3 linked regions of the Homo sapiens genome follow. The protein of the gene in region 2 interacts with the protein of the main gene of each other region in a pairwise test. Each region holds a gene or a part of one and is shown on either strand. Other genes may lie near its edges.

Evidence for each region.
Region 1: the proteins of QRICH1 (region 2) and ACTL9 interact in a two-hybrid assay, tested with the Homo sapiens proteins (one large-scale study listed by BioGRID).
Region 3: the proteins of QRICH1 (region 2) and TRIM59 interact in a two-hybrid assay, tested with the Homo sapiens proteins (one large-scale study listed by BioGRID).

Annotation. Positions count from the first base shown.
Region 1 is NC_000019.10:8,696,783-8,700,278, forward strand, and holds ACTL9 (actin-like protein 9), read right to left. Parts: upstream 2,014-3,496; 5' UTR 1,920-2,013; coding exon 669-1,919; 3' UTR 618-668; downstream 1-617. UniProt on the Homo sapiens protein: Testis-specic protein that plays an important role in fusion of proacrosomal vesicles and perinuclear theca formation.
Region 2 is NC_000003.12:49,083,867-49,087,593, reverse strand, and holds part of QRICH1 (transcriptional regulator QRICH1), read left to right. Parts: intron 1-3,727. UniProt on the Homo sapiens protein: Transcriptional regulator that acts as a mediator of the integrated stress response (ISR) through transcriptional control of protein homeostasis under conditions of ER stress.
Region 3 is NC_000003.12:160,439,787-160,443,286, reverse strand, and holds part of TRIM59 (tripartite motif-containing protein 59), read left to right. Parts: intron 1-3,500. UniProt on the Homo sapiens protein: E3 ubiquitin ligase involved in different processes such as development and immune response. Serves as a negative regulator for innate immune signaling pathways by suppressing RLR-induced activation of IRF3/7 and NF-kappa-B via interaction with adapter ECSIT.

The sequences.
Region 1 (3,496 bases), on a different chromosome or scaffold from region 2:
CAGGGGTATTTTGGGATGCTATATCAAAAGCAATAGATAATGGGGTGAGATTAGGGAGTCAGTATTTGAGGATGTCTTGGGCACATAGTGGGTAATTAATGAATGTATGTGGGATCAATGCATGAATCACTTAAACTAGAAATGGAAGGAATTGGGTATGTGGCTTGGGTATGTGGCAGACCCTAGGGGTGTGTGTGGGCATGGGGTGGGTGGTCAGAGGCTTTCATGTTCTTCATGTTTGGGGTTGGGGGCAGGTGCCAGGTGGAGGCTTATCTATGACTCATAGGAGGAGGTGATATTTCTAACAATAGCCTTGAGGTAGTGAACTCCCCATCTCTGGGAGTGTGTAAATGGGAAGGGCACTTGTCAGAGGTGGTCTGGGGAGGGGGTGTCCCAACCCAAGGGTGCCTGGGGAGGGGCACAGATCACAGGAGGATGGGTTGACAGGATTAGAACTTAGTGGTCTGTTGGGAGTTATTCATGGGGAAGGTGGGTTTAGGGGGTCAGGATTGGGGTGTCTCAGGGCATGCATCACAGGAGGTGAGTTAGGTCAGCCTGTGGGGCGAGGTGCCCAGGAGTGGATGGGGCAGGCCCTGGAGGAAGGACAGGACAGAGCCGGCTGTAGCAGAGGCTTTACTGCCCCCACGCCCTCCCCAGCTCTGCCCTGGTCAGTAGCATTTGCGGTACACGATATAGGGACCCTGTTCCTCGTACTGCTCCCGCAGGACCCAGCAGGACTGGAAGGCGCGCAGGGAGGCCAGGATGGAGCCCCCGATCCATACGGAGAAATTCCTGGTGGGCTGGGCAGCCACCACCACGTGGGTCTCGGCTGGCAGAGCGCGCAGCAGCTCTGCCCGGAAGCGACCCTCGAAGCCGGTGAAGAGCGAGGACCCACCGCAGAGAAGCACGTTTTGGGCCAAGTCCGCGCGCATCTCCAGTGACAACTTGCGGAGACTCTGCTTGGCCATGGTGGAGAGGCCGACGGGTGACAGCCCCGGGACCTCTGGGGGGTTGAACAGCAGCTCCGGACACTGGAACAGCTCCTTGCCCAGGGTGACCGTGCGCCCATCGGGCAGCTTCAGAGTCCGCTTGTACTCCTGCTCCGGCCGGGCCTGCTCCTTCTGGAAGTCGGAGGCCACGTAGCAATAGTGGTGCTTAATGTTCTCCACTAGGTCCAGGTCCTGCTGTCCCAGGGGCAGGCCGGCCTGGAGCAGCATCTCCGCCAGGAAGGCGGTCAGGTTGTTGCCCGCCAGGTCCAGACGCTCCGTGGCGTGGAGCAGGTTGTAGCCCTGGAAGACGGGCACTGTGTAGGTGACCCCGTGTCCCGTGTCCACCACCAGCCCGCTGACACGACCGTGGGCGTAGACAGACAGCACCGACTGCGATGCCACGTACATGGCTGGGGAGCGCAGCGACTCGAAGGCCACCTCCACTAGCTTCTCGCGGTTGGTGGCCGGGCTGAAGGGTGGGTCGGAGAACAGCAGCGGGTGGTCGTGGGTGGCCACTCGGAGGTCGTGCTCCAGCAGGTGGCGCCAGATGAGCTCGGCGGCATCCCAGTCCACGACGATGCCGCTGCGCAGGGGTTGCACCAGCGTCAGCTCTGGGAGCACGCGGGCTGCCTCGCCGATGAACGTCTGCAGCCCGGACTGCCCCGAGGTGGCGGGTTTCTTGGGCTGGCAGCCCAGGATGGTGGCCACGGTGTAGGTGGGGCTGGCCTGCCCAGCAAAACCTACCTTACAGGTGCCTGTGCCCATGTCAATAACCACCGCGCCGGTCTTTGGTGGCAGCCTGTCGGCCACCATGCCGGGGGAGTCCCGCTGCAGGGGCTTGTTCACCACGTTGGGACTGGGGTTTGGGCCGGGCCTGGGGGCCTCCAGGGAGGACTGGGATTCCGAGGACTTGGGGCGACTTGCATCCATGGTTGCGGGACGCCAGGTGAGGGGGCTTTTCCTCTGGGGTTGGGGTTGCGGGGAGAAGAGGTTGAGGCCCGGCCAGTGGGGAGGGCAGGCAGACAGGGGGAGGGGTGGGCCCGCAATCTATGACGTCACGGTGCCCCTTCAGTCTTCTTAAGACATCACAATGCAGCCAAGAGGATGGGTCCCTGCCCAGCCCTGCCTGCCCAAAGGCTGTCATCTCTTCTCTGAAGAGCCAAATTTGGAGGAGGAGATGAGCATCTCAGAGCAGGGCCCTCTTAACACATTTCTGTCGGATGCGCTAGAAGCTAATACGATGGCACCTGGTTTTTGAGAAAAGACAAGCTTTTTGTTGCATGTCAACCCACTGGGAGCTAGGAATCCAGCACAAGTCTGTTTCTCAGCTGGCTTTAAGGCAGTAATTTTATTAGAAAAGTTCTGGGGCCGGGGGCTGTGGCTCACACCTGTAATCCCAGCACTTTGGGAGACCGAGGTGGGAGATCACCTGAGGTCAGGAGTTCGAGACCAGCCTGGCCAACATGGTGAAACCCGTCTCTACCAAAAAATACAAAAATTAGCCTGGCATGGTGGCGCATGCCTGTGGTCCCAGCTACTGGGGAGGCTGAGGCAGGAGAATCACTTGAACCCAGGAGGTGGAGGTTGAAGTGAACCAAGATCATGCCACCGCACTCCAGGCTGGGGGATGGAGTGAGACTCTGTCTCAAAAGAAAAAGAAAATAAAAGAAAAAAAATTAGCCAGGCATGGTGGCACATGCCTGTAGTCCCAGCTACTAGGGAGGCTGAGGCAGGAGAATCTCTTGAACCCGGGAGGTGGAGGTTGCAGCGAGCCAAGATCATGCTACTGCACTCCAGCCTGTATGACAGAGCGAGACTCATCTCAAAACAAACAAACAAACAAACAAAGAAACAAACAAAAAACCCTCATAAGTGGAAGGCATTTCAGCAAGTTGTTTCTTTTTTGATCTGCCATTCTGCAAGCTCAAACATTTCTTTGGGGCATGGTTTCACTAAAAACATGCAAAATTGGTTTCTCTAACTCTTTGGGCCACGCTTTCAGGAAGACCCAGGAATCCTCCTCTGGGTACCTCGCCATGAAGCTATTTACAGCCTAGTGGCAGAGAGCTTGCCACAGGCCTCCCTAGAATATTAGAATATTCCTCCTCAGAATATTAATTAGAAGGTGGGGCGGGCTAGCATGGCTTCCTGGTTTCCAAATGGAGACAGAGGCCAGCCTTGGTTGGGGATGGAGAGAGGCAGGGAGAGACAGGAACACCCCTGTCCTAGATTCTTTGCTTCCTCTGCTATATTCACTGCCTGAATCATTCTCCCTGTCCCATTCCTGCCAAGAAGGAATTTGCCTCTTCAAATCTCAGTCTGATGCCACCTCCTCCTGGAAGCCAACCCTGATTTCTACTCTGTACTCCAACTAGATGAGGGATGGGGGAAGTCTGCCTTCTCTCCAGGGGTTGTTACCTGCTTCCTCCTGGCAGGAGAGGGGCTCAGTGAGATACAAGAAGGGGTTTCAGTATAGATAAAAGGGGAGAGGGTGCATTTGGGAGGAA
Region 2 (3,727 bases):
TATTTTTTTATTTTTATTTTTTTTAAATTTATTTTTCTTATTATTTTTTGAGATGGAGTCTTGCTCTGTTGCCCAGGCTGGAGTGCAGTGGTGCGATCGTGGCTCACTGCAACCTTCGCCTCCCGGGTTCAAGTAATTCTCCTGCCTCAGCTTCCCTAGTAGCTGGGACTACAGGCACCACACCTGGCTAATTTTTGTATTTTTAGTAGAGACAGGGTTTCACCATATTAGCTAGGCTGGTCTCAAACTCCTTGTGATCTGCCTGCCTCAGCCTCCCAAACTGCTGGGATTATAGGCGTGAGCCACTGTGCCTGGCCTATTTTATTTTATTTTTTTGAGACAGAGTTTTGCTCTTGTTGCCCGGGCTGGAGTGCAGTGGCGCGATCTCGGCTCACTGCAACCTCCGGCTGCTGGGTGCAAGTGATTCTCCTGCCTCAGCCTCCCGAGTAGCTGAGGTTACAGGTGCCCACCACCACGCCTGGCTAATTTTTGTGTTTTTGGTAGAGATGGGATTTCACCACGTTGGCCAGACTGGTCTTGAACTCCCAACCTCAGGTGATCCGCCCACCTCAGCCTCCCAAAGTGCTGGGGATTACAGGCGTGAGCCACTGCACCGGGCCCCATATGAATGTATTCAAACTGGACTAAGCTATGAAGAGCCATTGTTGGAGTAGATGTGAACCTTGAGGGGCCTCAAAGCCCAAGGAAGAGGTAAGGTTCTGAGGCAGTTCAGACTTCTTTTAGTCCATCACGGATTGAAGACTCACTCTGCAGAGCCATACAGGGGGCCCAAAAGAGGTATCAGGGATAAGAAACCCAAGAAACAGTGATTGCAATAAGATCTTCCCTTGGTACCTAAACGGAAAAAAGAAAAAAATTAGCAAACAGACCTATAGAAATGTAATAGATTGTTGTTTTGGAGTAACCTTTGTCCATGGTACCATCTTATGTTCTAATAATAAAATAATAAAAATAATAACTCATGTAGTGAAGAATTGCTGTGCATCAGGCACTATGCTAAGCTCCAGTAGGAGGAAATACAGAGGAGCCAGGCGCAGTGGCTCACACCTGTAATCCCAGTTTTGGGAGGCTGAGGATCACGAGGTCAGGAGATCGAGACCATCCTGGCTAACACGGCGAAACCCCGTCTCTACTAAAAATACAAAAAAATTAGCCGGGCGTGGTGGTGGGTGCCTGTAGTCCCAGCTACTTGGGAGGCTGAGGCAGGAGAATGGTGTGAATCCAGGAGGTGGAGCTTACAGTGAGCCGAGATCGCACCATTGCACTCCAGCCTGGGCGACAGAGTGAGACTCCATCTCAAAAAAAAAAAAAGAAAAAGAAAAAGAGGGAGATACAGAGGAGATACCAGTGAACAATTTGATTTTATACCAGCAAAAATGTCCAGGGTCTGTTTAAGGGAGGGCTGGCTTTCCTTTATTGTTACTTATTTTTTTTTTTTTACAATGCAGCTATATTTAAAAGCGTTTAGAAGTAAATGCTTGTTTACAGACCTCATACACCCCAAGAGCATTAGAGTATTTTCTTTTTTCATTATTAGTCTCATCAGAGTCCCAGAAATTGGGAACACTCAGATATCCTCATGGCTGCATGTTTTTCAGAAATACTTTAATTAATTTCTTTATTGCTTCTTACTAAGTCTTTTACTTGGAGCTAATTAAGAATCTTTTGTCTCTTTTAGAAGTTTCTCCATTTCTCTTTATTACGAAGGCTCAACTTTTGTGTCTTATGTGCAGCATCTTGAAGTTAAGTCTTCATTATTTTGTACAAGTTTTTGGTATTTTATGGTTTAGTTTCTTTTTCTTTTTTTTTTTTTTGAGATGGAGTTTTGCCCTTGTTGCCCAGGCCGGAGTGCAGTGGCATGGTCTTGGCTCACTGCAACCTCCACCTCCCAGGTTCAAGCGATTCTCCTGTCTCAGCCTTCCGAGTAGCTGGGATTACAGGCACGTGTCACCACACCTGGCTAATTTTTTTTGTATTTTTAGTAGAGGCGGGGTTTCATCATGTTGGTCAGGCTGGTCTCAAACTACTGACCTCAGGTGATCCACCCACCTCGGCCTCCCAAAGTGCTGGGATTACAGGTATGAGCCACCTCGTTCGGCAGGTTTAGTTTCTTTCAGATTTTGAAAGAAAATCGTACTATGATCAACCAGAATTACGTGTCTGTTACCATTACTACACTATAACCACTTGTATTTTTAGTAGAGATGGGGTTTCACCGTGATAGCCAGGATGGTCTCGATCTCCTGACCTGGTGATCCGCCTGCCTCGGCCTCCCAAAATGCTGGGATTACAGGCATGAGCCACCTCTTTCGGCCGGTTTAGTTTCTTTCAGATTTTGAAAGAAAATCATACTATGATCAGCCAGAATTATGTGTCTTACCATTACTACACTATAGCCACTGTGTAGAAAAAGATGATTTTTTTTTTTTTGAGACGGAGTCTTGCTCTGTCGCCCAGGCTGGAGTGCAGTGGCACGATCTTGGCTCACTGCAAGCTCCACCTCCCAGATTCACACCATTCTCCTGCCTCAGCCTCCCGAGTAGCTGGGACTACAGGCGCCCAACACCACACCCGGCTAATTTTTTTGTATTTTTAGTAGAGACGGGGTTTCACCGTGATAGCCAGGATGGTCTCGATCTCCTGATCTGGTGATCTGCCTGCCTCGGAAAGTGCTGGGATTACAGGCGTGAGCCTTAGATTAATACCACTTGTGGAAAATTCAGAAGAGTGTTTAACAGAAGAAACTTAATTACTCTGTGGTTCCATCATCTAGGCATAACTACTGTTAGCATTCCTTTTTATCATTTTTTGAGGTGGAGTCTCACTCTTTCCCCAGGCTGAAGTGCAGTGGCGCAGTCTCAGCTCACTACAACCTCCGCCTCCCGGATTCAAGCAATTCTCCTGCCTCAGCCTCTAGAGTAGCTGGGATTACGGGTGGCTGCCACCATGCCCTGTTAGTTTTTGTATTTTTAGTGGAGATGGGGTTTCACCATGTTGGCCAGGCTGGTCTCACAATCTTGGCTGGATGTGATGGCTCACGCCTGTAATCCTAGCACTTTGGGAGACCGATGCTGTGGATCGCTTGAGGTCAGGAGTTTGAGTACATCCTGACCAACATGGCGAAATCCCGTCTCTACTAAAATACAAAAATTAGCTGGGCATGGTGGCGGGTGCCCGTAATCCCAGCCACTTTGGAGGCTGAGGCAGGAGAATTGCTTGAACCTAGGAGGCGGAGGTTTCAGTGAGCCAGGATCGTGCCACTACGCTCCAGCCTGGGCGACAGAGCAACACTGTGTCTCAATAAAAATAAAAATAAAAAAGAATTTAGGCTGGGTGTGGTTGCTCATGCCTGTAATCCCAGCACTTTGGAAGGTGGAAGCGAGTGGATTACCTGAGGTTAAGAGTTCGAGACCAGCCTGGCCAACATGGCAAAACCTCATCTCTACTAAAAATATAAAAATTAGCCGGATGTGGGCCGGGTGCGGTGGCTCATACCTGTAATCCCAGCACTTTGGGAGGCTGAGGCGGGTGGATCATGAGTTTAGGAGTTCAAGACCAGCTTGGCCAAGATGGTGAAACCCTGCCTCTACTAAAAATACAAAAATTAGCCAGGCACGGTGGCAGGTGCCTGTAATCCTAGCTACTCGGGAGGCTGAGGCAGGAGAATCGCTTGAACCTGGGGGGCACGGAGGTTGCAGTGAGCCAA
Region 3 (3,500 bases), about 110 Mb from region 2:
AGATGTTCATCCTAGAAAATATACATAGGTTAATTTTTTGTTCTTTTTCTTCCTTTCAGAAGCCTAGACTGGTTGTGGAAAATTTCTGCTGCATAAAATTTCATATTGGTTTCTGAAAGAACTAGCCTGTAAGCATGGTAGCCACCTGTATCTTTTTTTTTTCTAAAAAAGGCAGGGTCTTGCTCTGTTGCCTAGGCTGGAGTGCAGTGGCACAGTCGTGGCTCACTGCAGCCTCAACTTCTTGGGCTCAAGTGATCCTCCTGCCTCAGCTCCCCGCGTAGCTGGGATTATAGGCGTGTATCACTGTGCCTGACTAATGTTTAATTTTTTGTAGAGAATGGGGGTCTCTTGGTGTTGCCCAGGTTGGTCTTGAACTCCTGGCTTCAAGTGATCTTCCCACCTTGGCCTCCCAAAGTGCTGGAATTACAGGTGTGAACCACTGCACCTGGCCCACCTATATAGTTTACTTCTCAGGCAGCAACCAGAGTCAGAAAGTTCCTGACCTTACAAAGTTATTTTTCAGTTCTAGTTTCTCTTGAATTTGTTGCCTAAAATTAGTTTTTAATCAATAAATCAGTGAGAAAAGGGTAGTCTGAGAATAGATTTTGACTTCTGTGAACTTCAAGTTATCCACAAATTTTTGTCTAAAAAGTATTATTAAAAATTTTACATATGATAGCAGTAACTTTGAGACCAACCACGATTTTTGCTTCCTATTTTTTTTTTTTCCTTTTTTTGAGACAGAGTCTTGCTCTGTTGCCCTGGCTGGAGTGCAGTTGCGCCATTTCATGCCTCAGCTTCCCGAGTAGCTGGGATTATAGGGATTACAGGTGTGCGCCACCATGCCTGGCTAATTTTTGTATTTTTAGTAGATACAGGGTTTCACCATGTTGGCCAGGCTGGTCTCAAACTCCTTGCCTCAAGTGATCCACCTGCTTTGGCCTGCTTCCATTTTATATAAGCTTAGGATATGCTTTACAATGTCATGAATATTCTCATTCTAAAGAAAGTTGAGCTTTTGGGCCCCTAAGTGCATTCTCAGAGTTGTTCCCTAGTTTTCTGCAAGCATAGAATAGGGGTTTGGATAGAAAAGTTAGATTCTGTTTTAGGACTAGTTTTGCTACTTAAACAATTGAATAGCTCCAGTAATATTAAATCTAGATTAAATGTACGTCGACTGCTCAAATTTTATTTCCTACAAAGTGTTATTCTGTTTATTCCTTCAATGTGAATTCTGACATCACTGAAATACTCTGAAAAACACATTTGTTTTTCTTGGGTGGTTTCTGTATGACTTCATAGCTTTCTGTAGGTGTAGGGTAAAGTTGTAAAGTCTTGCCAGCATGCACTCACTTGAATTTATCTGCAGTGAATGTCATCTTCTTTACTGTTGCTCAATTACTTTAATTTGCTGGAATGCTCTACAGTTCAAGCTTAGTCTCTGTGTGACACACTTTGGCTCATTCGGGATCTGAATATTGTCAGTTTGAATGGAGTGCTTTTTTTCTTTTTTCTTTTTTTTTTTTTTTTTTTGAGATGGAGTCTCACTCTGTTGCCCAGGCTGGTGTGCAGTGGTGTGAACTTGGCTCACTGCAAGCTCTGCCTCCCGGGTTGACGCCATTCTCCTGCCTTAGCCTCCCAAGTGGCTGGGACTACAGGCGCCCACCACCACACCTGGCTAATTTTTTTGTATTTTTAGTAGAGACGGGGTTTCACCCTGTTAGGCAGGATGGTCTCAATCACCTGACCTCATGATTCACCCACCTCGGCCTCCCAAAGTGCGGAGATTACAGGCGTGAGCCCCCGCACCTGGCCTGAATGGAGTATTTTCTGATAGATTTTCGTTTTACACCTTTTCCTAAGCAGAGATTTTGCTATTAAAAAAACAAAAAACAAAAAACCCCAAAACAAAAATCTGTATTAACACAGGTCTCTGAAAAGGCATTTGTTCATTGAAGCAGTAACAAGTGAATGCCTGCAGTGTTAAAATTTGTGCCTAAATTGCAGGAATATAACCATTGTTTAGACACAATTCCTGCCCTTATAGGAGGCCTACATTCTAATGTATACAGAAAAGTTACAAAATTCTTAAATAAAATCTTGTTAAAGTGCTATGAAGTAAAAATGCAGTGTTTAATGAGAATAACAGGGGACCTAATCTGGGGAAAAGGCAGGCTCAAGTTGAGCCTTGAAGGAAGAGTTAAGAGTTTGACAGATCGTAAAGATAAGGAGCCAAGTTTGCATTTTATTAAAAATGCAGTTAGTTACTTTTAGTTGCTGTTTTCACAGATTTTTAATCTTAAAAGTTAGTTTTATAGCATGTGATTTGGTAACCTTTATATTTTACGTGAATGGCACTTGGGTGTTTATTTTTTTTGAGACGGAGTTTCGCTCTTGTTGTCCAGATGAGTGCGGTGGTGTAATCTTGGCTCACTGCAACCGCCACCTACTGAGTTCAAGCAATTCTCCTGTCTCAGCCTCCCAAGTAGCTGGGATTACACGCATTTGACACCACACTGGGCTAATTTTGTATTTTTAGTAGAGATGGAGTTTCTCCATGTTGGTCAGGCTGGTCTCAAACTCCCAACCTCAGGTGATCCGCCCGCCTCGGCCTCCCAAAGTGCTGGGATTATATGCGTGAACCACTGCGCCTGGCCATGGCACTTGGGTTTTTAAGTTTTGCCTAAGGTACTTTCAACAGTGGTATAACTTGATTTTTCTCTATCAAGGGGTAAGCTAGTCTTTAGAATTGTGGCTGATGCATTGAGGGTAGGTATAAAGGAAAGCAGTAGGAGGTGGTAGGGTGCAAAATGGTCAGGCTTCTGTTACTGGAAATATCAGTAGTAGCTTGCCAAGAGGTCAAGTTACTTGTGTCAGAGATGGTCTCTGAACTATCGCTACGTTTCTTTTTCTGTCTCAGAGAAATACGGATCGAGAGACTTTCATGAAGGAAAGATGACTAATGGTCTTCTTTTTGTTCTTTACCATTTAGTGCTCTAGTTTTTCACTTAAAAATTAATTCACAGTTACTATAGTCAACTCTTATCTTTCAAACTGATTTTTATTATAAGAATTAATTCAAAATTTTTCTGTCTTCTAAATCTGCAAGTTAAAATTATTGCTTTAGAGAATTATACTATGCTGATCCTGGGGTTTAAGCGTTCTTGTATTCTAATTTGAGAAGCTAAAAAATTTATGGTAGTAACAGTTACTGTGGAGAAATTTGATAGCTTGCTTTAGAAACCATTATTGAGCCAACTGGGACATGTTTCCTCCTTTTGTGTTAAAGAATATACTTTTGCTAAGCCTAACTTGTTGTAATAGAAATAGTCTTGTCTACTCATTATATGTGCTTGGTTTTGATTTTATCATCTTAAATGTTAAAATGTTGCACAAAATAGTTGTAATCACTAAGTAGACTTTAACAGAACACTTTGAATTTTAGTCTTTATTATGTAGTGTATTAGTCTGTTTTCATGCTGCTGATAAAGACATACCTG